4 linked regions of the Homo sapiens genome follow. The protein of the gene in region 2 interacts with the protein of the main gene of each other region in a pairwise test. Each region holds a gene or a part of one and is shown on either strand. Other genes may lie near its edges.

What was found. The genes of interacting proteins can lie anywhere in the genome.
Region 1: the proteins of AGTR1 (region 2) and JKAMP interact in a two-hybrid assay, tested with the Homo sapiens proteins (one large-scale study listed by BioGRID and IntAct).
Region 3: the proteins of AGTR1 (region 2) and CD37 interact in a two-hybrid assay, tested with the Homo sapiens proteins (one large-scale study listed by BioGRID and IntAct).
Region 4: the proteins of AGTR1 (region 2) and RTN3 interact in a two-hybrid assay, tested with the Homo sapiens proteins (one large-scale study listed by BioGRID and IntAct).

What each region holds. Positions count from the first base shown.
Region 1 is NC_000014.9:59,498,017-59,501,516, reverse strand, and holds part of JKAMP (JNK1/MAPK8-associated membrane protein), read right to left. Parts: intron 2,791-3,500; coding exon 2,609-2,790; intron 327-2,608; coding exon 250-326; intron 1-249. UniProt on the Homo sapiens protein: Regulates the duration of MAPK8 activity in response to various stress stimuli.
Region 2 is NC_000003.12:148,700,903-148,704,402, forward strand, and holds part of AGTR1 (type-1 angiotensin II receptor), read left to right. Parts: intron 1-3,500. UniProt on the Homo sapiens protein: Receptor for angiotensin II, a vasoconstricting peptide, which acts as a key regulator of blood pressure and sodium retention by the kidney.
Region 3 is NC_000019.10:49,334,255-49,338,205, reverse strand, and holds the start of CD37 (leukocyte antigen CD37), read right to left. Parts: upstream 2,801-3,951; 5' UTR 2,666-2,800; coding exon 2,597-2,665; intron 2,493-2,596; coding exon 2,420-2,492; intron 1,298-2,419; coding exon 1,173-1,297; intron 1,060-1,172; coding exon 985-1,059; intron 282-984; coding exon 177-281; intron 1-176. UniProt on the Homo sapiens protein: Structural component of specialized membrane microdomains known as tetraspanin-enriched microdomains (TERMs), which act as platforms for receptor clustering and signaling.
Region 4 is NC_000011.10:63,712,500-63,715,999, reverse strand, and holds part of RTN3 (reticulon-3), read right to left. Parts: intron 1-3,500. UniProt on the Homo sapiens protein: May be involved in membrane trafficking in the early secretory pathway. Inhibits BACE1 activity and amyloid precursor protein processing. May induce caspase-8 cascade and apoptosis.

The DNA of each region.
Region 1 (3,500 bases), on a different chromosome or scaffold from region 2:
TGACATTTCTCCTTCATGCTGGATAGTTGGGCCTGACTACTTCACTATTTTGCTAATTTCCCAGGGAAATATATAGTCCAGTACACAACTTTTCATAAAGTTAACAAGCCAAAAGCTACCAAGTGGCATCAATCAGCCAAAGATTACTAAAACAATTAGTTGTACTATATCATATCATATGGACTATTCTGATATTGAATTGTCAAATTTATCAAAAAGTCTTTAACAAAGGAAAAAAAGACTTCCTACCTCTATTTCAGAAGCAGACATGTACACAGCCAGAGTAACCAAAGATAACACTAATATAATGTATGGGAAGGCGTAATCTGAAAGATAAGCATTGGTATTATGTTGGAAATGAAACAAATTTTCTCAATAAACCATCAAATAAATTCAAATAGTAATTTTCCTTAGAGTCAAATCCTTTCTCAACCAGTTCTGTGAGACTTACAACCTAAGGTTCTGAGGCAGTGGCCAGCAAGCTTTTTCTGGAAAGGGCAAGATAGTAAATAGTTTCAGCCCTGCATTTCTCTGTCTCGATTACCCAGCTCTGCAGTTGTAGTGGGAAAGCAGCCATAGAGAATACATACATGAATGGGCACGGCTGTGTTCCAATAAAAACTTTATGGACAATAAAACATACGTTTCATACTCACATCTAGAAATATAAGTCTTTTGATTTTTTAACCATAAAAAATTGTAAAAACTATCCTTGGGCCAGCTTTGAAGAACCTTGCCTTATTAAGGCATCCAGTGAATGTAAATAATTAACTTCTCTCCTCTGCATTCTAGAATAGTACCAGTTATGTACTAAATTTAGGAGAATTCAAAAAAATGGTCAAATAATTTTCTGTGTTTTGTGGTCAAGGTGGGGAACCGCAGTTGAAAAAGGTTATCTATAAGAGTAACTCAGCTTTAATTAATCTTTAGAAAAGGTCATTTAGCAATAAACCTTAAAGGATAAAGAGATCATTCAGTATTCTTAATATCAAAATTCCTGCAATCTCTACTTTAAATACAGTACAGTAATACTTTAAGCAAATTTTTTCCTCTAAAACACCACTTTTCTCTTAAAATGTTTCAAATTTATAACACACTAAAATAAATGGACAAATTGAGAAAAAAACTTTGAATTTTTTTCATACATTATTTGTAAATGACTTCAGTTTATGAAACTACTTATCATTGCAGTAGAACCCATTTGGAACAATTTCAAATGTTAACTCAGGATTCAGCAGCTAGAAACTGAATTATCTATACAGGCCTGATTCCAACTTACTAAAGAACTGAATGACTTATTTGACATTTATAACTTTTTATTTCATAGACAGTTATTAGGTCCTCAATCAACTTTTCAAAACAAAACAAAACAAAAACTCTACTTAACTTATAAGTAGCTAAACAATGTTGCTAATGATACAAATTTAAGACCTGGTAGTAAAAAGCCATATACAGTAAAAAGGAATAAAGAGGAAGTTTCTAACTAAGCCCAAATTAGTGCAAATCAGTGCAAATGTAATCATGTCACTCTTCTGCCTAAATCCTTTTAAGAACAGGTCCCTATTCCCTAGAGCAAGAATGGCAACCTCAAAAGACAGAGAGGGTAGCCAGGAAGGTATAAGGGAATGGGCCAAATCTAACAGGGAAATAGAGGAGCTAGAGGGAACTATAGATTTTCAAATCCTGTGCAGGCCAAATGAAACAGTTCATCTGTAAACCAGAATATGGCGGATAACAGAATTTCTGGTTCCCTTGGTCTTACCCTCAAGCCCCACCATCACCTTGAACCAAATTACATTCCCAAACTATATTACCAAATTACATTACCAAGCTCCATATAAAGGATGGTGTCCAACATCCTTGGGACGTTCAATGTCACATATTCAAAAGAACCACACTACATTTTCTCAGCCACTGGCTTGCCTACTTTATCTCCTGGTAGTAAGTGAGGTTTTTAACAGTGAATTTGTCTTATTCTTTTGAGTCACAGTTTGGTCTAAATGGTTACTAAACAAATGAATTAATGGTTACATTAAAATAAAAGATATATTGAGGACTTTTTACTATAAAAGGTTTTCATAAATACACTTAGAAACCTAAGACCCTACTTAATAATAAACAGTATACATTATCAAGACTAATTTTCATAAATTCCTAAATAAAAACCAGTTTTTATTTCTTATTACATACTTAGATTTTTAAAATATTTTAATTTCGTCATGAACTTCAAATGCAAAGAGAGGTGGGCAGATCATGAGGTCAGGAGATCGAGATCAATGTGGCCAACATGGTGAAACCCCGTCTCTACTAAAAAAAAATACAAAAATTAGCTGGGTGTGGTGGCACATGCCTGTAGTCCCAGCTACTTGGGAGGCTGAGGCAGGAGAATCAATTGAACCCAGGAGGCGGAGGTTGCAGTGAACCGAGATCATGCCACTGTACTCCAGCCTGGTGATAGAGTGAGATTCCATCACAAAAAAAAAAAAAAAAAAAAAAAAAAAGGATTAAACAAACTATCTTAAGGAAAAATCTCCAAAATTAAATCTAGAGGAAATATTACTACATACAATAATAAATATATTTCATTGACTTTACCCATCAAACTTACATAAAAGGCCTCCACCAACTGCCTGAAGCACGGTTAAAATTGGGAAGAAGTAAAGTGCAGCATAAATACTTTTAAATCGATCAGATTTCCCTAACCCACATGCAATCTTCTTCACCAGAAGAGGTCGGAGCAGCATCATTAATACCAAGCAGAATGCGTAATAGATAAATACAATGGTATATCTGTAAAATAAAATAAAGAATTTGTAACATCAAAAATGTTTTAAAAATGTTTTTAATCTTGATCATTTTTAAATGAAAGAGCCTAAAAGAGGTTTAAAAAGCATATTTACTCTATCCATTGGATATTCAGATTGGTGGAAAGCTGGCCAAACAGGCTGTCATACACGGCTAGCAAGGGTACAATGGTTGCTTTCTTAGGCAGTCTGGAAATATGTACCAAAAATCCTAAAACTGTTTATCCCTTTTGATTCAGCAATTTTACCTGTAGAAATTTATCCAAGGGAAACAACCAGGGATACATAAAAAAACCTACTGTACAAGGATTTTTATTGAATCACTTATAATAAAGCCCAGAAGAAAATAAATATTCAAATGTAAGAAACTGGTTATATTTTATAGTATATTCATGCTGCAATATTATGCAGACATAAAAATCTAGTTATGAAATAAATGTTAACAAAATTAACTGTGCCTAATACATTAAGTGCCAACAACTTACAAGATAGCATGTCATAGTATAGCCTTAATATTCCTTAAAATGCATACACATGCAGAAATAAAACTGGAAAGATAAAATTTGTAGCAGAATCATCTCAAGGAACAGAATTACAGATTATTTTATTCTGTGTGTGCTTTTATTCTGTTTTTGAATGTCCCATTTTTAATGTAATTTTTATAATCAGAAAAAAAAAGCTGTAGAAAGAGCTATG
Region 2 (3,500 bases):
TTTCTTTTCACTGTAGCTGCTTGTTAAAGCAGTATACTCAATCTCTGATAAGCAACAGTAAATTTGATCGATTTGTATCCTAAATTTAGCTATCACTTTACATTTTGTTTTATTCATAATATGAACTTTAGCTTCTAAAAATCAACTTTTTAATAGCTTAATATATAAAGCCATCTTAAATCAAGGAATATCTATAGGGACTTAAGGTAATATTCAACTAAATTGGCAAGTGACTACCATTATCCTATTAAAGCTCTAAAATGCAATATTTCAATCACAGAAAAAAAATCTTATAATTTAAAGAACTATAAATTGCCAGATGTTTCCCTAGTTATTACGTTAGTGACAAATTAGACAACTGGAAATAGAAAACAGAGTATATGTTTGGAACAGTCATAAAAGGACTAGTGACTATTGCTGCTAGCTGTGGTTGTATTAACATTAAAATATTTGCTATGGGATTTTTCTTCTTATCAAAGCAGATGCTCAGATGAGGAAAAACTTTCTTGCATATGAAAATCAAAATTGTCTTCCAAAATATTTAAGTAACAAAAAATTCATTATGTAGTATAAATGCTGTATGATTACATTATTCTTATAGTTAATTTAGAAGGGTTTGAATTTGTTTTTGTTTTGTTTGTGTTTGTTTCTTCGATAGGTGCATTCTCTAACTGTCTTAAGTAGAAACAAATGTCTAGAATCTCTCAGTGATTATCAGTCTCCTTCCTATTACCAAGAATGTTTTTATTGTGTTGTTAATCTCACATGTAATTTTTTTAACATTTAAAAGTTTGGAAAATGGGTAAAAAATGAGTGTGCCTTGTTTCCTATTATTACAATGTGCCTTCCTATTTCAAGTCCCAATTCTAGATTTCCTTAAAACTTAAAATCATAGAATTAATAATCTTTCAGTTTAAGTCAACTTTTGTGTGATTTCTTGTCCACTTATACACACATAGATGCCTTCATCTTCACCAAATAATGTAGAAATTTTATTTAGTTCAATGGATTTAAGTACTCTGTATGCTTAAGTACAAAATAAGAATATTGAGAAATACACATATGATTGTGTACCTTTTTTTTTTTTTTTTTTGAGACAGAGTCTTGCTCTGTTGCCCAGGCTGGCGTGCAGTGGCATGATCTCGGCTCACTGCAACCTCTGCCTCCCAGGTTCAAATGATTTTCCTGCCTCAGCCTCCTTAGTAGCTGGGATTACAGGTGCATGCCGCCACGCCCAGCTAATTTTTGTATTTTTAGTAGAGAAGAGGTTCGCCATGTTGGCCAGGCTGGTCTCAAACTTCTGACCTCAAGTGATCTCCCTGCCTCGGCCTCCCAAAGTGCTGGGATTACAGACATGAGCCACCTCACCTGGCCTGATTTTGTACTTTTAAAGAGAATTTGTTGTTGCTAATTTGCTAAGTTTATTTAGATATTTTCTGATTCTATATTAGTCAAAGCTCCTCTTATCTACTTTGGAAAATGAAGAATTATGTCTATAAAATATATCAACAACAGCTGCAGGTACTTACAGAGGAAATACTGTGGATCTGAGTGATATTAGGCCCTGAGGATACAAGCCAAAGTATAAAAATGGTCTTTGCCGTAGAGAGATAGTAGTCAAGCTAAGCACATATTTTGGCATGGGTCTCTAATAGCCTAATGCTAGTAGGGTGGGAAGCCATTTAAAAATGGCCCCTCCTTCTGTCCTGCCTTTCAGACCAGATGGTGTGTCTAAAGTGGTCACACTGTTTGGTTCTGGCCACTTCTGTAATAACCACTGCTCCTTTCCCCTCCTCGTGAGATTATAACTCCTTTGACAGTATGGATGGCACCTAACGCATCCTTGTTTTCTTTTACTAAATGTTCCACGGAGTCACTTGCTTGCCTGTTTGTTGCTTATTTGTTTGTTTTTGGCTAAAACTACAGAAAATGTTAAATACATTTTCAGACCTTTATATTTTAAAAAAGAAATGTTAAGAAATAAATAATTTTTCTAATCTCATTTAGATACACTGTCCTATTACACACAATGACAAATTTGATGCTTTTGTCTTGCTAATTGAAGAGCTAAGCATGAATACAGTTTTTCAGTCTACAGCAGCAATGACAAGGGTAAAGTGGAGAAAAGAGTAAGGAAAGAAAAAATTAAAAAGAATAAAAGGTTGAAATATCAAATCGGTGGTTCTTAAGATGACAGAGGCAGGTGAGACAAGAATACTGGAATCACCCAGGGGGCATATGAAATCTGTACATTTCATCCACACCTTCTTTTCTCCCCCTGTCCTCATTCCCCCTGTTGAGACACATTGTATTACAAATTAGGAGGAAACCATCTAAAATTATCTCACGTATCCCAGTTCCCATATTAGCATCATGAGTATCACCTGAGAGTTTGTTGGAACTGCAGAATCTCAGACCCTGTCCAGACCCATTGATTGCATAAGAATCTGCATTTTAGCAAAATCCTCAGGTGATTCAAATGCACATTAAGGGAAAAGAAACACAGTGTACCGTACCTGTGGCTTGTTTAGAATAATTATGAAGAGGTGTTTTCTTGGCTCTTAACTAACGTTTTTAATAAAGCTAATATTTATTGAGTACATAAATGTGCCAAACACAACGTTCAGTCTTTCTTTAAATTTTTTTTATTTAATCCTCACAACAACCCTGTGAGATAGTTTCTGTTTTATCCTTATTTTATAGATTGGGATACCAAGTAATAATGAGATAAGTAGTTTACCCAAAAGCTGTAACTGATACAGTCGAGATGTAAACATAAGAATTCTAATTTCATTGCCTGTTCTCTTAGCTGTTACCTACAGTGTCTGCTCTATACTGGGCTACCTACTTTTTAAGGCCAACTAATTATTTGAAAATTTATTTAAAGTTTTAATTTGAGATCAAAATCTGTTTCCCTCATAAATTTTTTTTAAAAAAAGCAAACAAGATCTATTCCATTTTGATCTAATGTTTTCCTGTCACCTTACCTTTAAGTGCAATAATGGGAAATTCTAGAAATTCCTTCTTTAACTGTTTGAAAAAATACCAAAACTATGACAGCCTGTCCAAATCCACTAAAATATATTTTTATATGCATGCTTTTTGTATATCAATTATACTTCAATAAAGCTTTTTAAAAAAATAGTAGATGACATACTTTTAAAAATTAACTTTGGAGCCCAGGTATGGTGGCTCAGACCTGTAATCCCAGCACTTTGGGAGGATCACTTGAGGCCAGGAGTTTGAGACCAGCTGAGGCAACAAACTGAGACCCCCATCTCTACAAAAAATAAAAAATTGCCAGAGCATGGTGGCGCACACCATGTAGTAGTTGGGACCTGTAGTCCCAACTACTCAGGAGACTGAGTTGGGAGGATTGCTTGAGTCTGGGAGGTGAAGGCTGCAGTGAGCCATGATCACACCACTGCACTCCAGCCTGAGCAACAGAGAAAGACCCTGTCTCGAATAATAATAATAATAATAACAACTTTTGATATCTC
Region 3 (3,951 bases), on a different chromosome or scaffold from region 2:
AGGCGACGCCGGGGACAGTTGTGTCATCTGGGGAGTGGGGAGCGTCGGGCCTGGGAGGGATTGGGGTGTGTTAGGATCGTAGAGCTGGGGGTCGGGCCCACGTTGGGGTGGAGTCTCCTCCAAGCACAGGGCTGAGGCGGGTCAGTCCGGGAGGGAACTGGAGGAGGGGGGCTTACCTGGAACTGCACATAGTCCCAGCTCTCCTCGGCCGCGGTCTCCTCGGGGTTGGTGCCGTACTTTTGGATGGTTTTCTCTACGACGTCCCGCAAGCTTCGCTCCAGCTGAGAGGCCACCAGTGAGGCTGGGCCTTATCTTCCCCGCCCCACCCCTCCCCCTCTCAGGCTGTGCCAGCCTCAGGCGGGCCCTGTGCATCTCTGGGCCAGTCTCAAATCCTTACTGAATGGCTAGCTCTGTGTACTTCAGGTCTGTCTTTCTGTTTCTTCCACTATTTCTACGGCTCATAAGTCTCTGTCTCTTCTTTCAGGGCGTCTATTTCTTTCTCTTGTTCTCTCTTTTTCCCGTGTGTTTCCCTTTGGAGCTGTTTATGCCTGTCTCCCTTGGTCCAGGTCGGTGTGTCTTTCTATTAATTTATTTTTTGAGACAGGGTCTCACTCTGTCACCCAGGCTGAGTGCATGGCTCACTGTAGCCTCAAACTCCCTGGCTCAAGTGATCCTCCCACCTCGACCTCCCAAGTAGCTGGGACCCCAGGTGCACACCATCACACCCGGATTTTTTTTTTAAATATAGATGGGGTCTCACTATGTTGCCCAGGCTGGTCTCAAACTCCTGGACTCCCACCTCAGCCTCCCAAAGTGCTGGGATTATGGGATTACAGGCGTGAGCCACCAGGCCCAGCCTCTTATTTCTCTTTATCTAGGTTAGCCCCTGTCTGCCCTTGTTTCGGTCTCTCTCCACCCTCTCCCACCACTCCCTTCCCTCTCCTCCCTGCTGGGGGTGGGTGGTGGCCACTGCAGGAAGCTCACCTGGGCCCGCTGAGTGGAGATGAGGATTCCCAGGGTGATCTGTGTGGCAAACAGGAGCAGCAGCATCCCAAAATACTGGGGAGCAGAGTGGAGAGATCAGGCTGACCACCCCTGCAACCCCGGCCCAGGCCATTTTTGAGGGTGGGGATAGGAGTGTTCCTAGGGACGGAGAGGGATGGTGCACTCACCAGGCCCAGGAGGCAGCGGAGCTCCTTGAGGGCCCCCACACAACCCAGGAGGGCGATGCCCATGGTGAAGATTCCTGAGATGGCCAGGACTTTGGACCAGATCTGCAGAGGCACGAAGGCCAAGCCTGGGAGAGGTGAGGGGAGTGATGATGAGCTGTGTGGCACAGCTCCAGGCAGCCCCATTTCCCACCTAGGCAGCCACCCAAGTGGGGAGCAGTATCTTGGTGCCCCTCTCTCTGGGACTCTGTCCCTGCCCCACCCTGAGTCCCTGTTTCCTTCTGAAACTTTCTCTTCTTTCTGGGCCTGTTTCCCGTCCCTGGATCTCTGTCTCTCTTCCTCTTACCCTCTCCTTCCTCCTTCAGCTCCTCCTCGTCCCCAGTAGTTTCAGCCCTATCACTTGTTCTGTGACATTGGCTTGGCTCCTTAAACCTCCCTGAGGCATAGGAGATGATATCTATTTCTTAGGGTTTTTTTTTGAGTTGGAGCCTCGCTCTGTCCCCCAGGCTGGAGTGCAGTGATGTGATCTCGGCTCACTGCAACCTCTGCCTCCCAGGTTCAAGTGATTCTCCTGCCTCAGCCTCCCTAGTAGCTGCGACTACAGGCATGTGCCACCATGCCTGGCTAACGTTTTGTATTTTTGAGTAGAGACAGGGTTTCACCATGTTGGCCAGGCTATTCTCGAACTCCTGACCTCAAGTGATCCACCTGCCTCGGCTTCCCAAAGTGCTGGAATTACAGGTGTGAGCCACCGCGCCCGGCCCCTAGGGTCATTTTGAGAGACACATGAGGACATGTGTTCAACCCAGTCCTCAACACAGGGCAAAGACTTCTTAAATATGAGCGTTTAGGGTTATATTTCATTATTATTTAGGGTCATACTTCATTATTATTTTCCTATTATTAATGTTATTTTGGCTCTTTTACGTCCTTGCTGTATGACATCCATCAAGGGGCTTCCCCTCTCTGAACCTCAAGCGAGGGGAAGGTTTGTGGGGGCATCTGACCAGCCACAAGTCCCGACAGATAGGAAGTGCTTGAGAAATGGCTCTCATGATCATTGTTGTTTGTATGCACAACCCCATTTGCCGGAAGAAGACTCAGGCTCCAAGAAGCCTCCGGTGAGCAGTGGATGGGAGCCTGTAGCCTGCCTGCAGAGTAGGGCACCGTAGGTCTCCCTGAGACAAGGGAGACCCCAGGAAGTTGCTTGGGTTGGGGGAGGCCCTCCCACCTGCCCCAGCCCCCCTCACCCACAAAGGACACGAAGCTGGTCTTGTCAATGAGGATCCAGATGCCGAAGCAGAAGATCAGGCTGCCGAGGACCTGGGGAGAGGAGATGCGGATACGGGGGTGGGCCACAGGGGAAGATGAGGGCTGGGTTAGCGGCAGGGGCTGGGCCCCGGCTGGGTAGCCATGAGGCAACTCACGAAGAAGAAGAGGTTGAAAACGAAGAGGAAGTACTTGATGAGGCTGAGGCAGCTCTCCTGGGCTGACATCTTCACCTAGTGGGGTAAGCGGTCCACTCACCACACAGAAGAGGTGCTGACAGTGGGGGAGACAGGGAGAAAGAAAGAGGCTGAGAGAGAAAGAGAGACGGAGAGCTGAGAGAGAAAGGAAGAACCCCAAAAGAGGAAGTTCCAGGGGTGGGGCTCCACCCACTCCCGCTTCATGTAAGGTGGCTTTCTGTCTCTCTCTCTGTCCCTGTCTCCCTCACCTGCTCCACTGGGACACATGCTCTGGTACCTGAGGGGCCTTGGAATTTGTGGGCACCAAGGACTCATGGGGCAGTCCCTCCCAGGTCTCCATGTCTCAGGCGCTGGGGGATCTAAAGGGACCCCTGATCTACTGGAACCCACCTCTGGGCATGGGGACCTCAGGGCTGACCCTGGACAGCAGCTGACCTCACAGACACTCTGACCTCATGGCCTGCTAAGCTCTCCCATCTCTGCATCCAGCTGTGTCTCCCATTTCCTGCCCTGGGTCTCTTGTTCCTCCTCTCTGGGTCTTTGTCCCCACCTTCCTGCTACTCCCCATCTCTGTCCCCTTATCTCAGCAGAGTCTCTCCCTCCTCTGGGTCTCTGTCCTCCTGCCTCCTGGGGTCTCTATCCTCCCTCTCTCTGTGTTTCTTTATTTTATTTATATATTTGTTTCTTTTTGAGACAGGGTCTCACTTTTCACCCAGGCTGGAGTACGGTGGGGAAAACAGCTCACTGTAGCCTGGGCTCAAGCTATCCTCCCACCTCTGCCTTCTGAGTAGCTGGGATTACAGGTGCACACTACCATGCCTGGCTAATTTTTGTATTTTTTGTAGAAATGGGGTCTTGCTATGGAGTGGGAGTGTTGTATTTTTTATATTTAATTAAAAAAAAACAGAGATAGGGTCTCACTAGGTTGCCCAGGCTGGTCTGGAACTCCTGGACTCAAGCGACCCTCCTGCCTTGGCCTCCCAAAGTGTTGGGATTACAGGCGTGAGCCACTGTGCCTGGCCTCTCTCTGCTTCTGGCCCCTTCTTTGGGTCCTTCCTCCTTTCTCTCTTCATCTCTCTTTTGTTTTTGTTTTTGAGACAGGGTCGCCCAGGCTGGAATGCAGTAGTGCGATCATAGCTCACTGCAGCCCCAACCTTCCCAGGCTCGAGCAATCCTTGCACCTCAGCCTCCCAAGTAGCTGGGACTACAGGTGCACACCACCATGCCTGGCTAATTTTCTTCATTTTTTGTAGAGATGGGAGTCTCACTGTGTTGCCTAGGCTGGTCTCAAATTTCTGGGCTCAAGTGATCCTCCT
Region 4 (3,500 bases), on a different chromosome or scaffold from region 2:
ATGGTTTGCATCTACCATTATACAGTATGGATATTCAGCATGACTAGATTAGGGCATAACAGAAATGAAGCCCAGTATTGTAGGTTAAAAGGTTCAAAAATCTGAAGTGTGAAGTACTACAGATTACATTTAAATCAGAAATATTCCACAATCTGAGCCATGCATTGTTACTGAACTTACTAGTCAGTGTTTCTACCACAAAACATTCAGTGAACTAAGGTTATGGTAAAACTGTTTGGGAACCTCTCTCTTCAAACAACTCTGAGGTGAGTCAAACTGACTCCACCCCACAGGGGAGGTTCAGCTTATATGTTTTTTTGTGTGTTTTTTGTGTGTTTTTTTTAGACAGAGTCTAGTTCTGTTGCCCAGGCTGGAGTGCAGTGGTGCAATCTCGGCTCACTGCAACCTCCGCCCCCCAGATTGAAGCGATTTTCCTGACTCAGCCTCCGAAGTAGCTGGGATTACAGGCGTGCACCACCGCACCTGGCTAATTTTTTGTATTTTTAGTAGAGAGCTGGTTTCACCACGTTGCGCAGGCTGGTCTCGAACTCCTGAGCTCAAGCAATCTGCTCGCCTCAGCCTCACAAAGTACTAGGATTACAGGCATGAGCCACTGCACCCAGCCAGCTTATATGTTTTATGGAGATGGAGATTTCAGATGATTCAGATCTGTCATCTTACAGATGAAAGTCTACAAAATGAATTAGTAATAATTCAACAGGTATTTATTGAGTGCCTACCACGTGTCAGACACTGTTTTAGAAACTGGGCTTAAAGCAGTGAATAAAACAGAAAAAATTTCTTGCCTTTATGGAGCTTACAACACAGAGGGGAAGGCAGACAATAAGCAAAATCAATAAGCAAAATGATGACAATAATACAGTGGTGACAGTGCCTGATTAAACAAAAAAGAAAGCAACCAAATTGAATGCTAACCAAAGAATATTCATGTCACTGGGAAGAGCATGGTAAAACTGTCTATGCTTTAGCAGGACACAAACTGGTCAGTTTATCAAGCTTTGCTTTTCTCTTAACTTCTTTGAACCTTTAATACTCCAAAAGTTTCAAGTTAGGTGTAGAATAATCTCAGGTAAAACTAAAGTTAGAAGTCCTATTCTCAGAATACTAACACATCCTCTGCTGAGCACCATGATAGCCTGACAGACTTCAAACATTAAGGATTCTCTAGGCTGGGTGTGGTGGCTCATGCCTGTATCTTAGAACTTTGGGAGGCACAGGAGGGAAAATTGCTTGAGTCCAAGAGGTCAAGATCAGCCTGGGCAACATGCTGAGATCCTGCCCCTACAAAAAATAGAAAAATTAGCCGTGCATGGTGGCACGTGCCTGTAGTCCCAGTCACTTGGGAGGCTGGAGTGGGAGGATTGCTTGAGTCTGGGAGGTCAAGGCTGCAGTGAGCCATGGTCATGCCACTGCACTCCAGCTTGGGTGACAGAGTGAGAAAGAGAAAAGAGAAGAGAAGAGAAGAGAAAAGAGAAAAATGAAAAAAAGGAAAAAAGAAAAAAGATTAATATGACATGGCTACGAGATATATTAAAAAAAAACTCTAATAATGTTCCCTAATAAAAATATTATAACTTACTATTTAGGGTATATCTTGTTTTTTCTGGGGACAAGCTTAGAGGGCAAACAGAGCTCAGTGCTGCATTCATTTCTCAGTGATTGTGAGATGCAGGCGCTAATCATTACTATCAATCAAGCTTTCCCACATGTAGAAAAATAAGGTAGCATCATCATCTGTGCTTTAACTTTAATTATTTTGTTTAGAATTTCAGCAAATGAAAATACCATTTTTGGCTAGCTGAAACCCTAACAAACTTGGACACAGCTGACCTGTACCAAGACAATGGGAAAAATTGGGCTGGAAGTAAAAAGTTTATAAAGGCATGAAAACATTAAATAGAATGAAGACCAAAAACTAATAAGCCTTTTAGAACAGCTCCGATAAGCAAAGACTCTTCCAATTGGTCAGTATGGCACTTGTAGTCACTGCTGTTGCCCAAGTCAGTACCTGGCAAAAGGACAGAAAAGTCCAGTGAATCTGAAGGCAGTTAGCTCTTAAAATACTATACACTGTAAAGCTGTCTGGTGGAATAAATCTGGATTATTTTATGTCTCAGAAAATGTCTACTATCTTTCTTTTCTCAAAAGATTCATCCCTTCACATGCACTCTAAGAGCCTTTCAACACTACTCAAAACAAATCGCCATCAAAACTCTCATTATGAACATTTTCTAAATTAGTTCTTTGCTATAATGGAATTTAGTGTGGATATTCATTTTCAAGAGTTCTAATCACTTAAAAACATGGTGCTACTCTAATTATTAACAAATAAAGTCATAGATCTAGTAGATTTACTAAAAAGGGAATCAGCTGAGTGTGGTGGCTCATGCCTGTAATCCTAGCACTTTGAGAAGCCAAGGCAGGGAGACAGCTTGAGCCCAGGAGTTCGAGACCAGCCTGGGCAACACAGTGCGACCCCATCTCTACAAAAAAATTAAACAATTAGCCAGTCATGGTGGCATACACCTGTGGTCCTGACTACTTGGGAGGCTGAAGTGGGAGGACTGCTTGAGCCCAGGAGGTCGAGGCTGCAGTGAGCCATGCACTCCACCCTGGGTGACAAAGCAAGACCTTGTTTCAAAAAATGGGGGGTGGGTGAGAATCGATATATGGTAAGAGGTAAAAAATGTCATATCCCCACAATGATCATGAACATGTTCTCAAACTTATCAAGTACTCAGCTCCATGATTACTCATCTTCTTAAACTCTAAATACTCCACTGAGATATATTATCTGAAACAAAGACTAAGAAATTAAGTTGGTAGTCATATTCTAAATTCTAAATTTTTAGACCCAAATAAAAAATTCTTTTATATTTTTGAGAGATGGAATTTCACTCTTTTTGCCCAGGCTGGAGTGCAATGGTGTGACCTTGGCTCACCGCAACCTCTGCCTCCTGGGTTCAAGCGATTCTCCTGCCTCAGCCTCCGGAGTAGCTGGGATTACAGGCATGCGCCACCAGGCCTAGCTAATTTTGTATTTTTAGTAGAGACGGAGTTTCTCCACGTTGGTTAGGCTGGTCTGGAACTCCCAACCTCAGGTGATTCGCCTGCCTCGGCCTCTCCAAGTGCTGGGATTACAAGTGTGAGCCATTGCGCCCGGCCAAAAAATTCTTATTAAAAAATTCGAAGTCGGCCAGGCACGGTGGCTCACGCCTGTAATCCCAGCACTTTGGGGGCCGAGCTGGTCCTGATCACGAGGTCAGGAGTTCAAGACCAGCCGGATCAACATGGAGAACCCCATCTCTACTAAAAATACAAAAAAATTAGCCGAGTGTGGTGGCGCATGCCTATAATCCCAGCTACTCGGGAGACTGAGGCAGGAGAATCGCTTGAACCCAGGAGGTGGAAATTGCGGTGAGCCAAGATCACACCACTGCACTCTAGCCCAGGCAACAATGTGAGACTCCATCTCAAAA